Linked DNA regions of Homo sapiens: regions 1 and 3 are each linked to region 2. The links come from fine-mapping of genetic effects on gene expression. A gene starts in region 2. Each other region holds a variant in brackets. All regions are shown on one strand. Distances are between the middles of the regions.

The links.
Region 1: its variant is fine-mapped to the expression of NUMB in whole blood (INTERVAL, PIP above 0.99).
Region 3: its variant is fine-mapped to the expression of NUMB in whole blood (TOPMed, PIP above 0.99).

Annotation. Positions count from the first base shown.
Region 1 is chr14:72,986,846-72,994,989 of GRCh38, reverse strand. It overlaps ZFYVE1 (zinc finger FYVE-type containing 1), which reads left to right. Exons shown (of 12, transcript NM_021260.4): 4 at 1,633-1,847. Among named protein-coding and RNA genes, the nearest start is that of TRC-GCA8-1, 28 kb to the right of the region's middle. The variant AG/G (reference allele first, on the strand shown) is at 4,589.
Region 2 is chr14:73,453,911-73,462,101 of GRCh38, reverse strand. It overlaps NUMB (NUMB endocytic adaptor protein), which reads left to right and starts at 3,556. Exons shown (of 13, transcript NM_001005743.2): 1 at 3,556-3,609. It overlaps LOC101928143 (a long non-coding RNA gene), which reads left to right. Exons shown (of 3, transcript NR_135251.1): 3 at 838-1,167. RefSeq lists enhancers at 2,160-2,693, 2,694-3,227 and silencers at 3,213-3,412, 3,603-3,692, 3,703-3,832.
Region 3 is chr14:73,314,616-73,322,806 of GRCh38, reverse strand. NUMB (NUMB endocytic adaptor protein) reads left to right here. Exons shown (of 13, transcript NM_001005743.2): 6 at 6,385-6,417. Among named protein-coding and RNA genes, the nearest start is that of PAPLN-AS1, 73 kb to the right of the region's middle. The variant C/A (reference allele first, on the strand shown) is at 5,157.

The DNA.
Region 1 (8,144 bases), 470 kb after region 2:
CCCAAGTTTCTGGACAAATGATGAGAGTGTGGGCAAGCAAATACCCTTATACATTGGTAGTTTGCCCAGAGCTTCCTCACAAAAGACCAGAATTTTCAAAGTACAGAGAATTGTAAAAGTTCATCAGGAAGGTGATTAGTTAAGTATATCCACAGGATCGAAGACTGTATTGCTGCTTTTGAGTGTATTGTGACAAGGACAGGTACTTACAGTATGTTATTAAGTGAGAAAAGAGCAAGTTGCATATATATGTTGCTAAGTCTGTAGGAAAAATGTCTGAAAGGGCCAATATTGAGCTGTGGTTACTTTCGGGAAGTAGGTGAGAGCAGAGGACATAATTTCTTTCCTTTTATGCTTTGGCATATCTAGATTTTTCCAATGAATGGGTTTTTGGGAAAAAAGACTCCTCCTTGAAGTGTAATGTGCATACAGAACAGTGCGTATCATATCAAGGTATCATGTGATGAGTTTTCACTGCCTGAATGCCCCTGCGTACTCAATGCTAGACCATAGGACACCAGCCCTCCTCATAGAAGCCCTCCTCATGTCCTTTACCAGGAAAGGGTAACCTGAGTTCTCACAGCATAGATCAGCTCTGCCTGCTTATGTACTTCATGTACATTGAGTCAGAGTATCTTACTTTTTTTTTTTTTTTTTTTTTTTTTTTGAGACAGCGTCTCGCTCTGTCTCCCAGGCTGGAGTGCAGTGGTGCGATCCCGGCTCACTGCAACCTCTGCCTCCCAGGTTCAAGCAATTCTTCTGCCTCAGCATCCTGAGTAGCTGGGATTACAGGCGTGCACCACTAGGCCCGACTAATTTTTGTATTTTTAGTAGAGATGGGGTTTTACCACGTTGGCCAGGCTGGTCTCGAACTCCCGACCTCAGGTGATCCACCCACCTCAGCTTCCCAAAGTGCTGGGATTACAGGTGTGAACCACTGCACCCTCCCGTATCTTACTTTTTTTTTTTTTTTTTTGAGACGGAATCTCTCTCTGTCGCCAGGCTGGAGTGCAGTGGCGCGATCTTGGCTCACTGCAACCTCCACTTCCCAGGTTCAAGTGATTCTCCTGCCTCAGCCTCCTGAATAGCTGGGATTACAGGCACCTGCCACCACGCTTGGCTAGTATTTTTAGTAGAGATGGCATTTCACCATGTTGCCAGGATGGTCTCCATCTCTTGACCTGGTGATCCACCTGCCTCGGCCTCCCATAATGCTGGGATTACAGGTGTGAGCCACCGCACCCAGCCTCGTATCTTACTTTTATAATGAAAGATTTTTGTTGTTGTTGTTTGAGATAGAGTCACTTTTGTCTCCCAGGCTATAGTGCAGTGGTGCGATTTCAGCTTACTGCAACCTTCGCCTCCTGGGTTCAAGCGATTCTCCTGCCTCAGCCTCTGGACTAGTAGGGATTACAGGCATGCGCCACCACGCCCTGCTAATTTTTTTGTATTATTAGTAGAGACAGGGTTTCACCATGTTGGCCAGGCTGAACTCCTGACCTCGGGTGATCCACCCACCTTGGCCTCCCAAAGTGCTAGGGTTACAGGTGTGGGCCACCGTGCCTGGCCTACTTTTTTTTTTTTTTTTAAATGTCACTCACTACCCATGTGCCTGTGTTTCTGCTTGTATAGATCATCCCTCAGAGGTGCCAGAGAAGCTCATCCAGGACCGGTTCCGGAAGCTGGGCCGTTTCCCTGAAGCCTTTAGTTCCATTCACTACAAGGGAACGAGGACTTACAACCCTCCCACGGACTTTTCTGGGCTTCGGCGTGCTTTGGAGCAGCTACTAGAGAATAACACCACCCGTTCTCCCCGGCACCCGGGAGTCATCTTCAAAGCCCTGAAGGTCAGTTGGCTTGTGCCCCAAGGGCTTCTCATTGGGGTGCCAGTGGGTGGTGAGAACACTCAGTTCGCCAGCTTTTGTGGTGCTGGTGATTGGAAATCTGGGTGGAAAGAGGTTATAAGAAGCGGAAGCACATGAATGGAGTCCGCACCTGTCAGATGCTTTCATCTTGCCAGGAGTGCAAATATGGGGAAGTCATATGTGATAGTAAAAAAAGTGCCCGGTCCTCAGCTAGGAGAAAAACCAGGCACTCATTTCTGGCTGGTGTGGCTCAGCCCTGGTGAGTTGGTGTCATGTTGAGTCTCACTTAATCTGGACAGCCTTTATGCTTTTCTTAACATTGACTCACTGTTTTTTTCTTATTTAAATTAATTTATTCATAGAGGAAACTTTTTGTTATCACTATAAGCGGAAAACTAGTATCACAGGTAGAAATTGTTTTTTGTTCGGGGGGCGTTTAGGAGCAGAGGTTTGATAGGCAAAAGAAAGAGAAAGAACAGCTCTCTCTCTCTTGCAAGGGGCGGGGGGGGCACCTGAATGGGACCTCCCCCCAGAGGTAGAAAATTACCAAAACAAAACACAAAAATAGATACACAATAACACTACTATTTGTTATATACCAAAGTTCAGAGTACTCTGTATGGATTAGTTCACTTAATCCTTACACCAACTCCATGAGTTAAGTACTGTTAACATCCTCATTTACAGATGAGGAAACGGAGGCACCAAGAGATGTAGTAATTGGTTATACACAGTTGGTGAGTGACAGCAGGCCTAACACCTGGCCAGTTTACGCTAGAGCTCCTTCTCATAACCACAAAGCCTGTACTGCCTCTCAACAAATAAAATCGCCTATTATTCCTTAGCTAGAGACTATTACGCATGGAAGGTTCTGAGACTGGGTCCTGTTTTTTCTTTCTTTAAGAGGGAGATTTACAGCCAGGCGTGGTGGCTCACGCCTGTAATTCCAGCACTTTGGGAGGCCGAGGCGGGTGGATCACTTGAGGTCAGGTGTTTGAGACTAGCCTGGCCAACATGGTGAAACCCCCTTTCTACTAAAAATACAAAAAAATTAGCCGGGCATGGTGGCGCACTCCTGTAATCCTAGCTACTTGGGAGGCTGAGGCAGGAGAATTGCTTGAATCCGGGAGGCAGACGTTGCAGTGAGCCGAGATTGTCCCACTGCACTCCAGCCTGGGAGACAGAGCGAGATGCTGTCTCAAAAAAAAAAAAAGAGGGAGATTTGGCCTCTTAAAGAGAGGTGGGGATTAAATGAAAGCATACTTAAGAGACAAAGTACTTGTTATATAGTAAAAATGTTCAGTGAATGTTAATTGTGAATAATATTAAGGAAAAACTATTGAAAATGATTACATTTGAATAATTCATGAAATACATACATTTCCAGTTAGAATTTGAAGTTCAAGTGCACTTAGTTGTATTGGCTAATAATGTCCTTGTAGTGGCTCAAAGGCAGTGAAAACGGAAGATGACGCTTACCTAATGCAAACATTCTGAAAAGACGCTGAATCAGGCAAAGGGGCTGTAAATCTGATCACTGTGCATTATAAGGCAAATAGGCCAGAGGCTGGATTATAGCAGCTCCTTTGCTCTTCTGGAAGCTAACCCAGATTAATGTTTAAGTAAGACCATCAGGGGCCGGGCGCGGTGGCTCACGCCTGTAATCCCAGCACTTTGGGAAGCCGAGGCGGGCGGATCACGAGGTCAGGAGATCGAGACCATCCTGGCTAACACGGTGAAACCCCGTCTCTACTAAAAATACAAAAAATTAGCCGGGTGTGGTAGCGGGCACCTGTAGTCCCAGCTACTTGGGAGGCTGAGGCAGGAGAATGGCGTGAACCCGGGAGGCGGAGCTTGCAGTGAGCCGAGATGGCGCCACTGCACTCCAGCCTGGGCAACAGAGCGAGACTCCGTCTCAAAAAAAAAAAAAAAAAAAAAAAATACCATCAGGGACACTGAGCACTGTAAACTGTAATTAGTGCTCAGGGATTTTTCCCCTCAGAAGTCTTGGATGTCCTACCTCAGGCCAATTTATTACTGGCTTTGAGAAAAATAGTTAGACTGTATTCTTCCGAGGTGGTAAGCGTCACCAAGCTTTCTGCGATTAAAATGAACCTGGTCTGTCGGGTGAGGTGGCTCATGCCTGTAATCATTCCCAGCACTTTGAGAGGCGGAGGTGGGCAGGTCACGTGAGGCTAGGAGTTCGAGGCCAGCCTGGCCAACATGGTGAAACCTGTCTCTACTAAAAATACAAAAATTAGCTGGGCGTGGTGGCAGACTCTTGTAATCCCAGCTACTAGGGAGGCTGAGGCAGGAGAATCACTTGAACCTGGGAGGTGGAGGTTGCAGTGGGCCGAGTACAGTGCGCCACTGTACTCTAGCCCAGGCAACAGACCTAGACTCCCTCTCAAAAAAAAAAAAAAAAAAAAAAAAAAGGCCAGGTGCGGTGGCTCACGCCCTTAATTCCAGCACTTCAGGAGGCAGATGGATCACCTGAGGTTGGGAGTTCGAGACCAGCCTGACCAACATGGAGCAACCACGTCTCTACTAAAAATACGAAATTAGCTGCGCGTGGTGGTGCGTGGCTGTAATCCCAGCTACTCAGGAGGCTGAGGCAGGAGAATTGCTTGAATTTGAGAGGCGGAGGTTGCAGTGAGCTGAGATCTTGCCACCGCACTCCAGCCTGGGCAAGAAGAGCGAAACTCCATCTCAAAAAAAAAAAA[AG/G]AACCTGTTCAGCTGGAATTCTGATGATTCCTGGTAACTGGCATCCTCAAAATTTCACCGAGATCTGATATTTTCTATTCTCTGAGGTATAGGGGCTGTGTTATACTGAGCTATGGGACTGAATTCTTTTGTCTATGGGAAGGAGTCAATTTGTTTAAGCTTGTGATTTGGGTTCTCCCTAGAGAATTTTGCAGTTGTTGCAGTTTACCCAAATCTTTGAAAAAATTGGTTTTGTACTTTTTTGTTTTAAACATCCTTTAAATTAAAAATGCTTAATTCTCTGGTTATCACTCTAATAGCCACTTTTAAGGTCTGCCTTAGGCAAATTGACCAAGTAGAGTTTTATTGTTAAAATAGACTCTAACTAAAGTTTTCATAGTTCATAGCAGTGTATAATATAAATGGCTGTCTTTTCTTCTCCACTTGTTTTTATTTTGTTTTATGCTGTTGTATTAATTTTTTTTTATTAGTAGCCTTGAGTCCTTTTGAGATAAAAGAGTTGGGGTGGGTATAAACAGATAAATGACACGTCAGAATAATTTGTTTGATTTCTTGAATCTCCCATTTTTTCTTTCTTTTTTTCTTTTTCTTTTTTTTTCTTTTGAGACAGGGTCTTGCTCTGTTGCCCAGGCTGGAGTGCAGTGGTGTGATCACAGCTCACTGTACTCCAGCCTCTCACAGCCACTGCACCAGGCCCCAAGAGCTTTTAACTTCATGCTGTATTCCTTCCCAATAGTTATTTCGCTTCTAAAGAGGTCAGAGGATGGGACCATTTTAAAAGGTTCCTGATACATACTGTCAGTTATATTTGAGTATTTGGTTATTTTAATTAAAACAGAGATGTCATTTTAAAAATTATAAAAGCAATGCATATTCATGATAAACAATTCAAGTACTGCAGAATGTATGAGACTTAAGTCCCCTTTCCTTCCCCTACCTCCCCCCTCCTCAGTCTGTAGAGCTAACTCTTAATACTTTCTCACATAAGTGTCTAGAAATTTTTATTGCTGTGTAAGCACATGCATAAATATATGTTATAATGTATGTTTTTCTTCCTGAATAAATGGGATCATAGTAAAGTTAAATCCTTTTCCCCTGCCTAGTGTCCTTTTCTAACTCTGCAGATAACCATTATTAGTAGTTTATTATATATGCTTATAGAAATTGCAAATGCTGGCTGGGTGCTGTGGCTCATGCCTGTAATCCCAGCACTTTGGGAGGCTGAGACAGGCAGATCACGAGGTCAGGAGTTCAAGAGCAGCCTGGCCAACATAGTGAAACCCCATCTCTATTAAAAATACAAAAATTAGCTGGGTGTGGTGGCGGGTGCCTGTAGTCCCAGCTACTTGGGATGCTGAGGCAGAATGGCTTGAACCCCTGGAGGTGGAGGTTGCAGTTTGCTGAGATTGCGCCATTGTACTCTGTCCTGGGCGACACAGCAAGACTGTCTCAAAAAAAAAAAAAAAAAAAAGAAGAAATTGCAAATGCTGTAAAAGTGCATGTGCGTGTATGTATATATATCCTTCATAAATGAGATCATACCATTTATATTATTCTATGATTTGGTTTATTTTCACTTTTTTTTTTTTTTTTTGAGACAGAGTCTTGCTCTGTCACTCAGGCTGGAGTACAGTGATGCAAACTTGGCTCACTGAAACCTCTGACTCCCAGGTTCAAGTGATTCTCATGCCTCAGCCTCCCAAGTAGCCTGGATTACGGGCACACACCACCATGCCTAGCTAATTTTTGTATTTTTAGTAGAGACGGGGTTTCACCATGTTGGCCAGGCTGGCCTGGAACTCCTGACCTCAGGTGACCCGCCCACCTCCGCCTCCCAAAATGTTGGGATTACAGGTGTGAGCCACTGTGCCAGGCCCGAAATGCCTATTTTAAATGCCATTAGTATATTTAAAAAAAAAGTTATTAGGCCAGGTGCAGTGGCTCACGCCTGTAATCCCAGCACTTTGGGAGGCTGAAGCAGGCAGATCACCTGAGGTCACGAGTTCGAGACCAGCCTGGCCAACACGGCAAAACCCCATCTCTGTGAAAAATACAAAAATTAGCCAGCCGTGATGGTGTGTGCCTGTAATCCCAGCTACCCGGGAGGCTGAATCAGGAGAATCCCTTGAACCCCGGAGACGGAGGTTGCAGTGAGCTCAGATTGTGCCACTACACTCTAGCCTGGGTGACAGAGCAAGACTCTGTCTCAAAAAAAAAAAAAAAAATGTTGTTAGCCCTATCTTATTTTTGAAGTTCCACCTGATTGATGCAGTACTCTGTTGGATTCAAAGGAAGTCAAAGTACTACTTTTTGTGTTTATTATTGACCGGGAAATGTGGATTTGGAAATGTGATGAATGAGAAGAACAGTTTTTGGTGTGCACACATGCATGCACATATGTGTGTGTGTGAGAGAGAGACAGAGAGAGAGCTATGCAGCTGTTTTCTGCCCTAGTGGCTTGCCCATACATACCTGGGAGTGGTTTCTCTATTCCTCCTGCTGACAGGATCACTTTTGATGTCATTCAGCCACACTGTTGTGCAGGCCCCAGGCCCCTTTTTTTCTAGCTGGCTTATGTCCCATTTCTTGACTCCTTTGCTCAGGGTCCACAATAGCAACAGCCCAGATACCTACAAGCAGCGCATACCTGCACTGAGCAGATAAACCTGCTTGCAGGAAATAAATGCTCAGGTCTCTATCGAATAGAGGAATTAATATTCAATACTGGAATTGAATATTGAGTTAACTATGGTTGTCTGTACTTACAGTTCTGAATAGTTGGGAGAACCATTTCATAGTTGAATTTGTATAGGTTTTATGTAATTTTGTCTTAATTTTTTTTTTTAAGACAGGGTCTGGCTCTGTGTCCCCTAGGCACCATCTAGACTCATTGCAACCTCTGCCTCCTGGGCCCAAGCCATCATCCCACCGCAGCCTCTCAAGTAGCTAGGACTAACAGGCACACGCCACCACACCTGGCTAATTTTTGTATTTTTTGTAGAGACAGGGTTTTTGCCTGTTGCCCAGGCTGGTCTTGAACTCCTGAGCTTGAGGTATCTGTCTGCCTTGGCCTCCCAAAGTGATGGGATTACCAGGAGTGATCCACTGTGCCCAGCCTTTATGTACCTTCTTTAACCTCTGAGCTCTAAATGTAGAAACTCTTGACGTTCCAATTCTGTCACATCGGGAAGCATTTATGAAGTATTTATAAAGTTATGTTTTGTTGGGGTGTGATGTCACTGATGACAGAAGTGTGTCCCTTTTGAGTCAGGAAATTCATTGCTAGCCCTTGATGACTGGGGCCAGCCCTATAGATACAATAGAAAGAGCCACACTGTTGTCAAGGCAACTAAAGTTCAAGATCATCTGGTCTCCAGGCAACCTTTTCCAGACTTGCCTCAAATGCTTTCCCAAGCTTTCTTGGGGTAGGTGGGCCCTTCCCTGCCTTTCTCTTCTAGCTTTGGGATCTCAGGAGGAGGAGAACCCAAGAAACTGTGGAATGATGTGAGGTTTGGAATTTTTGAACCTGCTAATAAGTATATGGATCAGGTGGTA
Region 2 (8,191 bases):
TGCCTCCAACTGCTAGTGGCAGGCAGTTCTGGCCCTTGTCTGCTATCTGAGCGATTTTCTTCTCCACCGGTTGTTTATTTCTCTAATCTAGTTGGAATTGGAATCGTGTGTAGAATCCAGAGGAAGAAAATCCAAAAGCAAAAAATGGATCCTTTCCCTAGTGAGATTGCCCCTGTGGGCTAAAATAGAAATGGAAAGAGACTTGGATTCTTTTCCCTTGAAAAGTGACATTATGAAAGAGCAGGAGAAACAGCATTAGTGTACAGGAAAGCCCAAGGCACACTATATCACTCCTCAGATATTGGACATCACTCTGAGTCCTCTATTTTCTGCTTAATTGGGATTATAAATGCTATTTTTGCCCCGAATGTACCTGCCATCTTGGTCGTGCCCAAGTGGCTCTGAACAGATACCATCTGCAGGACCTCCACAGCCAGCCATGCAACAGGAAGCTGCAGACTCCCAGACTCCAGTGTTCTTGTTTTCTGAGAGGGAGCCCTGAGAATGGTAGAGAAGCAAAAAACACAGGAAAGAAAAGAAAAAAGCTGGATGGAGTAATTACATGATAGGGTTACCTTGTGCACGTGAAAGCAAAATGTAGGGATACAAGCAATAACCCCTCCGGTACTGCACAGTCTTTGATAACACAATAGCCTTCTGTTATTTCAAGGCATGTTCCTTGAAACCTTCCTTAAGGTTTTCCCACTACTTACTGGGTTGTAACATATTTATTTTATATGTCCTTTCTTAACTGATATTCACAAAGAATAGGAATGATAGATGTGTGTATATGAGCAAAAGCATTTATACATGCTTTCTTTTTTTTTTTTTTTTTAGTGTATGAAATAGCGGCTGACTTTTGTGACAATTTTCCACCCAGTTTTGTGATAGTAATTTCGCTGCATTCTTCAACTTAGATGGCAAGTCCTCTTAGCAAGGCTGGCCTAATTCTATGTTTTCTATGGCACCTAGTCACTATGGCTGTGCAAGAGCCATTATTACCCAAAGTACCATAATAATGGTCATGTCCTCCTATGACGTTATTGTTTCCTATCTGTCAGGACATTAATTGTCTTCTAACTTGCTCTAAAATTGGTAGCATGGCACACTGCCAAGACTAGAGAGAAGCAAGCTGCTGGTGATATATTAAAAGGCTGTGTAAAAGGACATATTGGTATTTGCTTTTTCTTGGGGCATCTTCACATTTGCATTACTTCACATGTTATGGGATGTTAGCTCAGGCTTGCCTTATGTCTTGGCGTCTATCTTATCATGGTCAATGTCTGATCTTTCCTTCAGCTGAATGATTCAGACATCTCTAAGTTATTTTGGCTTTTCCACTTTCCTTTCACAGGCTTTTTGTGAGTCATTGAATTGAATGGGAGGTTATTTCTAAATTGGAAGGTGAGGAAGAGAGGAGGGGGAGGAAAGTTCCGGAAAATAACTAGGAAAAGGCACTTTATTGTTATGTATAGTTACTGGAGGAATAATTTCTGCTTAGTCTGGTGATAGAAGTATGTACTTTATTTAAACTTGACTAAAAATATAGGCTAGAAAAAAGACAATATTTTTCTGAATAATAAACCATACAGTTTTAGACTCTTTGTAGCTTGCTCTGCAAAGAACAAGGAGGTTAGTAAATAGAAGAAATATGAGACAAAGGGTTAGCAGAAAGAAGAAAGAGACAAAGCACATTTCCAAAGTCCACATCCTTGAGGTGAATGCCTCCTTGACAGTGTCTTTTTTTTTTTTTTTTTTTAAGACAGAGTCTCACTCTGTTGCCCAGGCTGGAGTGCAGTGGCACCATCTGCAGAGACAGGGGTTTCACCATGTTAGTCAGGCTGGTCTCAAACTCCTGACCTCAGGTGATCTGCCCGGCTCGGCCTCCCAGAGTGCTGGGATAACAGGCATGAGCCACCGCACGGCCTGACAGTGTCTTAAACTATCCCTGGGTGTTGTTTCATGGCCCATGGGTATATGTATCATAGGTGGGGTTGTGAGAAAGTACATTTAAATCTGATTTAGAAACTGAAAGAGTAATCAGACCAGCATTTTGTTATTTAGGAGCAGGAAAAGTGGGTGAAAAAAAAGGAAAAACAAAAAGCTAATGATGAATATATTTCTAGGAGCACAAGAGTTTTTATAGCAACATTAGATTTCTCAAAAATGCCTACTGTGATTTGTACCCAAGTGAATAAAAAATGCAATCATTTATTCTTGTGCATTGTGCCAAGTGAGGAAAAAAAAAAAACACACACACACACAACCCGGCAATTCATTCAATGGCCCTAATTTAGACTGCTAGGAAGAGGTTTAGAAAAAAAAAAGAGAGAGAGAGAGAGAAGCTTTTAAAGTATCTGACACACAGCTAGTAGGGCTATTTAAGAACTGCTGAACAGAAAAACAAAGTGGCAGTGAGAGGTGGGGGAAAGCAGAATTCTCATTTCCAGAGCATCATAAAGGGTATAATGTGGCCCGCTTATTAGAAAGTTGCTGGCCGGGCGCGGTGGCTTACGCCTGTAATACCAGCACTTTGGGAGGCCGAGGCGGGCGGATCACCTGAGGTTGGGAGTTCGAGACTAGCCTGACCAACATGGAGAAACCCCGTCTCATGCCTATAATCCCAGCTACTCGGGAGGCTAAGGCAGAAGAATCGCTTGAACCTGGGAGGCGTAGGTTGCGATGAGCCGAGATAGCACCATTGCACTCCAGCCTGGGCAACAAGAGAGAAACTCCGTCTCACAGAAAAAAAAAAAAAAAAAAAAAGTTGCTAATGGCTGTCTGGTCAATTGGCAGGGGTCAGCCAGGAGTGGATCTGGAAGCTGGAGAACTCTCAATACGCCACTTCAGTTTATTGACGACATTTATAATTGCAACCGAAGTTGACTGATTTCTGCTAAATGAAAGTTTGCGCTTTGCCCTTTAGCATTGAGGCTCCTGGAAAGAACTTCAATGAAATTGGATGCATTGAGACCAAAGAAAAGAAGGGGACATTTTTATCTCTCTGATACCTTTCTCCCCAGGGCTTGGAAACACTTCTTAAACACAACCTCTAATGTTGGTGTTTTGTAAGTACTACCCCTATGAATAAAGCTAGCAGAGATAAGCTTCTCCTTGCAGGAAGTGAGCTGGAGAAGTGGAAAAGTTTACAGAGAAAACTCTACAACAAAGACTTAACCCTTCCCGGGTAACCACGAATGTGAGCGTCTGCCCCTCCTTTGCTTTCTACTGCGCAACCAAACTGTGCACAAGCGTGAATCAACCTTAACCGTCACGTCTCTTGCCAGTTAGCTTAACAGACACTTTTAGCAGCCTATCATAACTTCGAATTGCCCAACCCTCAACCAATTACAACTAAAGCTTGGGCTAGGACGCTCCAGGTCCGGGCGGGGGCGAATACCGGGTTTAGGAAAAGGGGCGGTAAAGAGCGATGACGGGCGGGTATACTAAACCAATCAGAGAGGAGAGCTGCCGCCCCACTATCCAATGGATAGGTTAGAAGTATGAAAGAGGGTGGGCCTGTTGTCATGGGGGAGGTGGTGGCGCTTGGTGGCCACTGGCGGCCGAGGTAGAGGCAGTGGCGCTTGAGTTGGTCGGGGGCAGCGGCAGGTGAGTGCCGGTAACGCGGGTCAGAGATCTGGGGGCCGTCGCGGGGCGGAATCTCCAGCTCAGCACTCCGGAGGCGGAGGCCGGAGGAAGGGGGCCTGGACTTCGGGTCGGGGCCCGGGCCGGGGCCGGGGCCAGGGCGGAGGCGGCGGGGGCGGCGGCGAGTTCGCGCTGACTGGGCTAGGGGGAGAGGGGCTGGGCTTCTGGCTGCGGAGTTCTCCCGAGGAAGGTAGGCTACGGCCGGACCCGCGCGGGTCAGGCCAGGAGGTCCCTTGGGACGTCCAGCTGCTCCGGTCTAGCGCGCTGACCGGCGGCCACTGTGTGAGGAGTAGGTATCTGAGGAAACGGAAGCGGCCAGGGTCCCAGAGAGGGGGTGACCTGTAACGACCTGCTTCAAGGGCGGGGTGTCTTGGGAATACCCAGGACGGCTTGGGTGCCAGGGAGAAAAGGAATCCGGGAAGCCCGGCAGCGGCCGGTGAGGAGAGAGCGGGGTGGGGGGCAGGGGAACTGGGAGTGGCCCCGGTCCGAGGGAGGTAGGAAGGCCGAGGGTGGCCAGGGTCCCGGGTGACAGGGAGCAGACTTGCTCCAAGTAGGGGCGTCTGAGGAAACGCTCGGAGGGGGTTGGGGACCCTCCTGAGAAAAGCGGCTGTCCAAGGGAGGGGGCTCCTGGAGAGATGAGGAGCAGCAGGTCTTCGGAGGGTCGGACGAGTAGAGATCTTGCACCGCCTGGGGGAAGAACCGGAGCTCCCTGCGCCCCCATAGCTGAGCTGGGATGGGAGACCCAACTGGCCTGGCCGCTCCGGCTCTGAGGATCCCTAAGGGACCAGGAAAGAAGTCCTCGAGGAGTGGCTCGCGTTTGAGACCGGGGTGAGGAGCCAGCAGGGGAGTGGAAGTTCCCTCGGTCGGAGAGGAGTCATGCAAAATGGGACGGAGATGGGCGGAGGTGGGAGAGAATCCCTATAGGAGGGGATAAGGTAGAGAAAGAAAGTTGCCCGAGGAGAGAGTAATGGTTTCGTGGAACTGGCTAGGACAGTAGATATATGAGAAATTAACAGTGGAGCCATGTAGGTTCACAGGTCTTCACAAATAGAAGAAACTTCAGTTTCGTAATTAATATCAAGATGACATCTAGGACCAAAGCAAAGCTCCTAAAAGCAAGGTTAAGTGACTTGTTTTAGAAAAGAAATTTGTTTTAGGATGATGGCAGTAATATTAGGAAATAGGTTCATTGACAGGGTGGGGAATTTGGGAGGGAAAAGGGGAGGAGTAGCTGAACTAAAGGAGTAGAAGTAAATACTTATCAGAAAGAGGGTAGGCATACTCGGCTAAAGTGAAAAGAAGTTTTGAGTTCTAGTTCCACCACTTAGCTAAGTTTCTGTGCAGTTTCCTCATCAGAATACTAATAGTAATAGTTCCTACTTTATAAGGTGGTGGTGGTGTTTTTTTTTTCATGTGAGTTGGTATTTGTAGAGCTTTTAGGATAGTGACTGGCACATAGTCGTGTGTACTGGATTGTTCAATAGACGATAAAGACCTGACTTCTTAAATAGAAGGTAAAGACCTGGCTCGCAGATGTTAGCTTGCATCAAAATCACCTGGAGGGCTTGGTAAAATGTAGATTGCTTGGCCCCACCTGGGGGTTTCAGTAGGTCTGGGGTGGGGCCCAATAATTTATATTTATCTCAAATGATGATCACGTTGGTCAGAGGACCACACTTTAAGAACCACTTACTTTAATGAAACCGGTAATAATGGTAGCAACTTTAAAATACCTGCTAAAGAGACAGGTAGAGGCAAATTGCCTAAAAGATCCTATTATAAAGGATACTCATTTTTAGCCTGTGTTTTTCAAACTGTGGATTGTGATTTATTAGTAATTTATAAAATCAATGTTGTGAGTTTTTACCTGCATTGAAAATAAAATGTAGAACAGAATAAACTGACATTGCATTTGGTAAGGAAAAGTATTGTTTTGGGAAACTTTTCTCCTACATGTATGTACTAGGTCACAATGTAAAGTGTATTTCTTTTTTTGAGTTCCTGGCCAAAGGATAAAATATATTTCTTACAGTTAAAAAAGTCTGAAAGCTGGGTGCGGTGGCTCACGCCTATAATCCCAGCACTTTGGGAGGCCAAGGCGGGCGGATCACTTGAGGTCAGGAGTTCAAGATCAGCCTGACCAACATGGTGAGACCCCCATCTTTAAAAAAAATACAAAATTAGCTGGGCGTGGTGGCGCGTGCCTGTAATCCCAGCTACTTGGAAGGCTGAGGCTGGAGAATTGCTTGAACCCCGGAGGTGGAGGTTGCAGTGAGCCGAGATCATGCCATTGCATTCCAGTCTGGGCAACAAGAGTGAAACTCCATCTTAAAAAAAAAAAAAAAGGTTTTTTTGGGAGTATTATATTCCATTAAATTTCTTCAGTTTCTGATTTGGTTCCTCCTGTGTTTGTCTTGTCACATATTGTGTTATGCCTCTGACTCTGGAACTTTTTTGGATATTGAGAATCTTTGGCATGAGAACTTAAGGGAATCTGAGGCAGAGAAATTGAATGGTGTTTCTCAGATGTTGTCCGCTTTTGTTTCACTTGTGCCCTCTTGTTCACCCTTTCTTTTTTATCACTGTACCGTAAAGCATTGTTTGTAAAAGCCTGAGTATACACAGACATATTGACAGTAAACAACACTGAAATGGACTGACTTGAGAAAATTTCATGTATAGAAAATAAGCAAAAACAAAGTAAGAAACACTGCAAAAGAGAAAAATGAAAAGATATTTCCTTTTTAGAGAGTAAAAATATTAAGTATTTCTTATCCTTACACTAATATAAAACATATACAGATATTTTTAAAGGAACTAGATATACAGTTTCTAGGTCTTTGTAGAGAAAAGAAATAGTGGTAATATGTGACAGCAAAATGCACCTGGGATAGAGGCTTAACTACAAAGTAAATCATTTATTAAGAGGGAGCTTTTGTTTAATGGTTTTCTCCCTTGAGAATAAACTGGATGTGGTACATGTTGTAAACTTAACTTGTTTGAGGAACCTAAATGTAATTTACAGCGTGTTTTTAAAAAGAATATGTATGTTTTATCTGTACGTGGTTTGATTTTTCTTCCATTGAAAGCTAGATGGTTTATATTTAGGAGTTGATTTAGATCTGTTTTTATGGCTGTTAAGAACAGGAAGCAGTATTGAAAACTGAAAGAGATCCTTGCAGCTTTCTTTAAAATCTTTAATCCAGGGGATTATGTAACCTCTTCATTAATGTTTTATGAAATTGTGAAGAAACTGTTGGTATAGCTTTGCATCAGGATTTTTGGTTTATTTTTTTCTCTCTCAAAAATAATTTTTAGTTTTATTTCAGATTATATTTCCTTAAAATTTTTATTTTCATTTGGAAGACTGCAAGGCATATAACCATTGCATATCTGAGTTCTAAAGCAGATGCAGACTTTTCACAAAATAAATTTACTGCTTTTTTTCTGTGACATAAGTTTCGAGAAGGAAAGCTTTTGATTTCTTGCATTGAGTTCAGTGGATTATTCTTAGCACTAGAGTTGTTGTTGAAGTCATGGTACATTTATATAGATCATTCAGTTCTACACCAAATGATGGAAGAATGAGAAATCCTATATGACAAATAGAAAAGTTCATTCTTCATAATTGAGAACATTGAGCAGTTTGATTACCTGGTTTTAATAAGTGGACTTATTATTCATCTGATTATACTTATCTAGGAATAGCTTTGATTGCCCAAATAATTTTACAGTGGGATTTGGTTGTCTGTAGTTGAATAAATGGTGGTTTTTAAATCCCAAAATCCTAACTGTGCTATTTAGTGAGACTCAGTTTCACATACTGAAGTTTTATTTAGGTAAGTGATTTTAAAAAGTAGAAGTTCAATTAACACTAGTTAATTAGGTTTATTTTCTATTTCAGAGAAGCCTTGTCTTGTTTTATAAGTCTCTGATCTACTTTTCTGCTTCCTGCTCTCCAACTCGCTGTACAATAAATTCTAATAGAAATGTGGGTAACTGAAAATCTAGTTCTCTAAAAGTATAAAACCCCTATATCTAGTTTTTTAGTTTGCTTCGAAACTTCCTAAACTAATTACCTTTAAAAAAGTATTTTATATAATAGAGTACTTGAAAAGCTACATTTTACTTTGGACTTGCCAAAACACATCTGTTGTGTGTAACAGGTTTTGATTTCTAGAGAATAGATCTTGAATTCTGCAGATTTCTGAACTCTGATTTTTTTCCTTTTTTTTTAAAAAAAAATTCAACTTTTAGTTTAGATTCTGAGAGTACATATGCAGGTTGGTTATATGGGTATATTGTGTGATGCTGAGGTTTGAGGTATGATTGGTCCTGTCACCCAGGTAGTGAGCATAGTACCCAATAGTTCTTCAACCGTTCCCCCCCCGCCCAACTTTTTCCCTCCCTCATTTTATGTTTTCCTGATAGGGCTGGGGAGAAATAAAACAATATACTCCTTAAATTAAAAAAAAATTTTTTTGCTATCTTATTTTTTTAATCTTGACATTATAGTGCATCCTTTAGTGGCAAAGAAAATTTGTTT
Region 3 (8,191 bases), 140 kb after region 2:
GCCCATCCAGAGGTATAAATTATTAGATGAGCCGTTTAAATTTAGGCCAGATATTATCCTAAAGGTACTTTTGATTTATAACCCATATGAAACAAATGTTGTGAAATCTGATAGAAGAATAGTATTCTAAGACTAGGATTAAACTGTTACAGTTAACATCTTACCCTAACTGTGATAACTGGGCTATAAATTAGGGGTTTTAAATATACTGTAAAAAATAGCTTCCTGGGGAAAACTAGAGGATAGAGGTCTGTGTTGATGCCTGGTGAGGTTTCCTTTTTGGAGACTTCTTACTATTACCTTGACTCCTACTCCCCAATTTTCTTCTCTATACACCTCTAACATAAACAGTCTATTTCTACTGCCTTTTACATAAACTTTAGCACACTTGAAGTAGAGAGCCCTTTCCCAGGATAACGTTTCCTCTGCCTGTTATGCGATAGAACACATCCCAGGCACATGCCTGTGTATTCAGTGAAAGGAAAGAACGAGTTCGGAATTCATAAAGATTCAAAGTGTTAATTTCAGATTTTCCATAGGTTTGAGGAATGTTCCATAGATCTGATAGCCCTTTTCACAACCCTCCTTCTCTCTAATATGTGGCCTTTCCCCACTTTGCTGTGAAAGCTTTAAGCATTACTTCTGCATGCTCTGGTCCCAACAGCATTAAATACATGTTGCTTTGGGTTTGCTGGTATGGTGGGCTGCCACAAGTTTGACTACTAATGTGTGCTTTTTTCCCTCAATTTGCTTAGTAATCAGAACTTTTGTGCTTCTCGGCATAGTCTATATTACTTCTTATCTATAATTCCTGAATATAAAATATATAAAATTTAGAGAAAAAGCAACCAAGTCAGAGAGGTAGATTTAATTTTGGGATAAATACCTGAATCTGTCATAGAAGGGAAAAGAGAAAAGTAATTGGCTATAATATACAAAGAACTAAAAAATTTTAAAAAAAGATACAGACATACCTACACATATATACATACATAGATACCTATACATACTCTTTATCTCAGATTTTGATCATTAAAATTCTTAAATGATTCAAGCCTTTGCTAGTCTTATCTGTGCTCTCCCAATCTGTCATTACGTTAAGGGGACCTTGTGTTATGGTACATGAAATTATAGTTTGTAGACCTTCCATGCCAACCTAAATATATTCCCCAGTTGAACATAGTCTCAGATAATTTAATTTTCCATTTTGTCAAAACCAAATTTAAAAGAGAAGTAAAAATTTAATTTTCTTTAACAAAATAATTCCGGGTTTATCTAGAATAATAATAAACAAAATATCAGTTACTCGGGAGGCTGAGGTAGGAGGATTGCTTGAGTCTAGGAGTTTGAGACCAACCTGGGCAACACAGCGAGCCCTTGTCTCAACTAAATAAATACACAAACAAGATGATTTTAGCTAAGAACATTTTTTTAAAGTAATGCAGTTATTTGCCCATTAAATAATATTTTATACTAATGACTGAAAACAGTGAACAGACTAGATAGCCCTGAAACAAACTATAAATAATTATTAAAATCTTATAATTTACACAACTTATGGTGAAATGGCCACTGTGGAATGAGCCTTTAGAAAGTCTTTTGATTCAGAGTATGACTTCATGTGCACTCTGTAAGTAAGGAAAAGCTAGAGGTGGTTTAAGTTTGCCCAGAACATATTGAGAAACGGTATTTTGTTGTTTAATGAGCAGTTAATCCTCTTACCTGTCTAGCTTTGTTTTTTTTTGAAATACTTTTAATTAGAAATATCTCGTTATTATATAAGCAATATGTTTATTGTATAAAATACAAATGAACCAAAAAAGTACACAAATAAAATGAAATTTCCTACAACCCCAGAGATAGCCACTATTTAACTATCTAGTTTTAAAACTAATGTTTCAGTAGATTTTTTTGTTTTATTTTACCTTTTTTTTTTTTAAACCAAGAAGATAATAGGCGTGATTGCTTGAGGCATAGGACTATTTAGATAATAAAATTTAATGTTTTTATATTCATCAGAATTAGGAACTAAATAGCCATTTTAAAAATTATACCTATGCATGGAACAGTGGCTGGCACATAGTAGTAACTCAAAAAATACTTCTAGAATGAATATACAGAATACAATCTGATCTACAATATGTGGTCAAATTGAGTCTTACAATAACCATAATCAAATATTATGTCTAATGTTTTAAGTTTACCAAAACTGTTTTGTTTATTTCTAAAGATCTTTATTTTCCTGTGGTTTTTAATGACTAAAAGAAAGTTTTAAGCCGAACACAGTAGCTTGCGCCTATAATCTCAGCTACTTAGAAGTCTGAGATGGGAGGATTGCTTAAAGCCAGGAGTTCAAGACCAGCCTGGGTAACATAGTGAGACCCTGTCTCTATAAAAATAAATAATAAAAAAGAAAGTTTTAGATATGTTGGTGATTGTTTTCTAAACATACTTAAACTTTTAAACTTTGAGGGGAAATTGACCATTTCTAGACTTCTTATCAAGAAGTTATTTAAAATTTTTCAGACAAAAACTAGATTTGGAGCAAATGTTATATGTAGTTTTGCACTGGCATGTATTATTAAAACATGAAATTGAAGTTTTGGGTCACTGGAGTAAATTTCCTGTTTCTTATGCTCAGTGAAACATCCCCATTCTTTTTTTGCCCCCCCGCCGAGTCGGAGTCTTGCTCTGTCACCCAGGTTGGAGTGCAGTGGTGTGATCTTGGCTCACTGCAACCTCTGCCTCCCAGGTTCAAGCAATTCTCCTGCCTCAGCCTCCCGAGTAGCTGGGATTACAGGTGCCCGCCACCACACCTGGCTAGTTTTTTTGTATTTTTAGTAGAGACAGAGTTTCACCGTGTTGGCCAGGGTGGTCTTGAATTCATGACCTCGTGATCCACCCACCTCAGTCTCCCAAAGTGCTGGGATTACAGGCATGAGCTGCTGCACCTGGCCTCCCCTTTCTTTTAAATACTCTTTCTAGAGCTATACTGAGAATCTTGCAGAAAATCGGAAGTCTTTAGGATACTGTTCTTCTCATATCATAGTGTGCCACATGTATTCCTGATTTTTGTCTTCTTTTCATATTTTTACTATGCAGAAATTTCTCGTTGCCTTTTGATTTCTCTGAGCAAACATTCATCTAAAAATCATCCACTGGGGATCTACAACCTACTTTGCCAGATACTTATATTGTGCCAAATGCTATGTTTCTGGAGACTTTTTGTTTGTTTTTTTTATAGATTATAAAGCTTCCTTTTAGAGTTTCAAATAAGTGGGAGCAAATATAAGGATGCATAAGCCTGCAGAGGATTAAAGAAGAAATAGGATATCTTTGAAATTAGTTTGAATGCCAGAGTTTAAAATTTTAAAGAATAGCTCAGATGTACCAGTTAAGTAACAAAACAAGCATTTTAAACCTACCATGTGAATGATCTTTGGAAGGCAGCTATGCTCATCACTGTACCACCAACACATCTAGTGAATAATCTTTGAACTAAAAATGTAATATTTCTGGTGCTTTTTATTTATTCATTTTTTTTGGAGTGGAGTTTCGCTCTGTCACCCAGGCTGGAGTGCAGTGGCACGATCTTGGGTCGCTGCAACCTCCGCCTCCCGGGTTCACGCGATTCTCCTGCCTCAGCCTCCAGAGTAGCTGGGATTACAGGCGCCCACCACCACACTCAGCTAATTGTATGAGACGGGGTTTCACCATGTTGGCCAGGCTGATCTCCAACTCCTGACCTTAGGTGATCCACCAGCCTGGGCCTCCCAAAGTGCTGGGATTACAGGCATGAGCCACTGCGCCCAGCCTTCTAGCGCTTTTTAAATTTGTGAACAATTGAGGAAAGAGATAATTTGCAAGTGTTTTTCACCAAAATACTCTCTTACAATTTAGAATTACATTAACTTCAATTGGAAGTCATCTGCATACTTGATATGCTCAAATGAAAAAAATATTATAACTAAACAAGATAGTGTTTTAAAAATATGCTCCTCAGAGCATAAATATGTTAATTTTTTAACTTTCTGGGCATAAAGTTATTGACAGCTATTTTCAACTCATTTACTTTGTCATATAACCTCACTGATTAGCTACTTTGGGACTTAGCTTCTATAGGATAAATGACAGAAATCACTATTGCCCATTGTTACTGCCTTTATGGCATATCAGCTACAGGGTGAGGAATATTGTCATATATCAGCCAATTCCATAAAAAAGTGTATAAGGCCTTTGGTTATCTTGCTTAACTCTAGTCCAAGATGCCCTTCGTTTAAGGTCATTTCTTCCCATTGTTTCTTAAATGTCTCTCCCTCTGTCTTAGTTTTAGACTAGTTTCATTATACTACCAGTTTCTAATATGTTGGTTTTTTATTCACTATTTGATATATTTGTTTTAATATATGTTCTTGTTTTAGCAGGTAAAAGAATCATAACAAATGTTTTTAAAAGAACATTATTATTCTTTAATAACTGTCTTTTTATGCATTTTGCATGCCAACTTTTTTCATTAACATCTTGGGTATTTTATAAAAAGAGGGAAAGCTCAATGTTTAACAGTAGCTTTTCTAGGAGCTAAATTAAATATTAACAATCTCCTTCCTTCACCTTCCCATCCCTCAAGAATGGTGAATATCTTAACTTTGGCCGCATCCTTGAAAGCTTATGGTTATTCATAGTCTAACAAAACTAGGGTCACCAAACTTGGCAGCAGAAATAATCTAGTCTTACTGTGATAACTACCCAATTACTTTATTATTTTTCCAGTTGCAGTTCAAAATGTTTTGTGGAAATATTTTTTGCTGTTTGTGATTTTCAAAGCTTAGAGGGGAAAACAAACTTTCCAGTGTTGGAGAGCACTGAATAGTTTATGAATTGTGTAAAAGAGTCAGATTTCAATGCAATTATCTTTTCCTAGACATTTATCCAACATTAAAAACCTATGATTATAAAAAGTAAAGGCTTAAAGTATATTTCAACCACAGCTAGGAAATGTAAAGTTAAATCTAGCTTGTGTGAGTTCAAACCCATCTAATTTGTGTAAATTCTACAGATTTTAATTGGTGGCCAGTTTTCATAAATGGTGCTTAAAAATTGGTGCTGATAGCATAGATAGTTATGCCTCTGTTATCCAGATAGTTTCAGAATTGTTT[C/A]CTTATAAATGTCAATGCAAGTTTCTTTATTTTAAAATAACAGCTTTTAGGTTGGGCGCAGTGGCCCATGTCTGTAATTCCAGCACTTTAGGAGGCTTAGGCAGGTGGATCACTTGAGGTCAGGAGTTCGAGACCAGCCTGGCCAACACGGTGAAACCCTGTCTCTACTAAAAATACAAAAATTAGCTGGATGTGGTGGCGCACACCTGTAGTCCTAGCTACTCGGGAGGCCGAGGCATGAGCATTGCTTGAACCCAGGAGGCAGAGGTTGCAGTGACCTGAGATCGTGCCACTGCACTCCATCCTGAGTGACAGAGTGAGACTCTGACTCAACAAACAAACAAACAAACAAAAACCAAATAATAATAAGCAATAGCTTTTATAAAGAAAACAAAACCCTGTTTCTTAAATTTCAGTTGTGGCCCACAGACATCATTTGGTTCTTAGGATACTTGTTTTCTCAGCTCTTGTATAAACATTAGCCTTGTAACCTTAATAGATAATTTATTCTGTGTCTGGAATAAAACATACATGTTATTTCCTTATGTGTGTTGTGAAATTGATCAGCACACCTGTACATATAGATTGATACTAATGTAAGTAAATGGAAAGCCAATGGTCAAGCTCCCCTTAAGTGGTATGGAGTTTCTAAGTGACATCTTGAACTCACTAAGAAAAAAGTATGACAAGGACCTTTGATGCATACTCATTTAATTTTACGTATTACATTTTTAATGTGATTATGTGGTCATTTGAATGTGGACTTTTTTAAAATTGGTGACTTTCACATAGTTGACCGCCAATTTTAAACTTAAAAAATGTATATGGAACCAGTCTTCTATTTTCTATTCACTATTATAAAATTTAAAATGCAAATCTCACCAAACCAGTATGCCCTATTGTTTTCTCTGCTGCCAAATTTGGAAGATCTCTGTTTTAAATGTAAATAGCGATTACTAAACTAACTGGTTGCTCTGCATGGATACAGGTTCTGATTTCTTCTTACTCTTTCTATGGATTCTTAGGCTATACAGTGTGTTTCCCTGCATTTTCATGCACCCTTCCTTTTTCCCTGTCACTCCTGGTGTGGATAACTCTTTGAAACTCACTCCCACCCCTTCTCCCACTTTTTCCTTTCCCCAATTTCTGTATGTGCTTATTGGTGTGAAACTCTGGGACATTTAGGCCATACAATAATAGCACTCGACTTGTCCCCCTGTTCCTCCAGGAAAGGAAGTTCTTCAAAGGCTTCTTTGGAAAAGTAAGTTTGATGCCACATTCATGCTTGCTTTATAAGGAGTTACACCCCTAGTGTAGCACTGACATATTTTTTAAAACTAGTACAGCTTTGGTTTCTTTATAATGCAGGAATTGGTTTGATTGTATATGGAAATTAATGAATTAGGAAGTTACTATCCGTGATATTATCAGTGGGTCTACTGATACTAAATCTGATGATTCTAAGAAATTCCAATAAATAGGCTGGACACGGTGGCTCATGTCTGTAATCCCAGCACTTTGGGAGGCCAAGGCTGGTGGATCACCTGAGGAGTTCGAGACCAGCCTGGCCAACATGGTAAAACCCTGTCTCTACCAAAAATACAATACAGGTGATGTGCACCTGTAATCCCAGCTACTCGGGAGGCTGAGGCAGGAGAATCGATTGAACCCAAGAGGTGGAGGTTGCAGTGAGCCGAGATCACGCCACTGCACTCCAGCCTGGGTGACAGAGTGAGACTCTGTCTCAAAAAAATAAAGAAATTCCAATAAATGAATCAAGTAGGTTAAAAGAGGATTATCTCCTCAATAGTAGGTATTAAAATAAATATCATTTGATCTTGTAAACCCTGTTTATATTAAAATATTAGCAATATTTGTAACAAGTGGATTTTACATAATGCCCAATATTCACAGGGAAATAGGAAGAAATATTTGAGTAAAAAATAAATATACCCCAAAGTTTACATTCAGTGCAATTTTTTTTCCAATCTAAATTAAATTTCAGGATAGTAAGTGAAAATGGATAAACTTACCTTTAGGGATCCTGCTATGATTTTTAACCTGCATTGCTAATCTAAGAAAAAGTATCTTAATTATTAGCCTACCAAATATCTGTCATATGTGGAATGTTGTTTATGTAGATGCTTTTCAAATAATGATTATTCAGTGTTCAGATCTCCCTAAATTTAAGAATATATGGGGTGGCTGTACACATATCAGTAAATATATTTCTAAATATATTTTGTGTCCAAGTTTATCCTTGTTTAGTTTTGAGTAAGTGCTAAAACTAATTCAGACTGAGACAGTATGAGAGAAAAATACTGTCATTAGATAACAGTATAAATTACTAAAAATTTATGTGATTAACAAAATCCTACAATTTTTTTTCTACTGCATGGTTTTGTCATTTTGGAACTTTGTTTTAAAGAACAAATAATTTACATTTCCTTCTCAATTAAATGTTTAAATGGAACTCATTTTTGCATTTTCTTGTTCTAACTTGTCACCTTAATACTAGTGTAAACAAATTTGAAGTATTTTGATCTAATGATTTAATTCAGTTACTCCTCTCAATCTGAAATAAAAAGTCAAATAATTTACCCACACATGTCACAATACATTTTTTAATAGACATTTTGGGTCTGAGTCAGATTAATAGGTCCTTAGAATATGGGATACATATCTAGAAAGAATCTTATTATTTCCTGTGTAGCACAGCATTATAAGTAGGGATTATATTTGTTAAGGAAATTGATAATTGTTAAGGACACTTTAGGAAACTTTTTGTGGTGTATTTGTTTTTTCCTAAACAGAGTTTCCGAAAGCAATTACACATCGCCACAATTATCATACAATTTTAACTATTGTTCAAGTGACTAGTTTTAATAAGTCTACTTCAAGCAGCAGATAAGGCTATATACGATAAGCTATATAAGATAAGGCGTCATAGATAAGATGAAGGTCAGGTTATAGCAAATATTGATTTGGTTTTTAGAAAGACAATTGTAAAAGTATATATTTTAGCTGGATGTGGT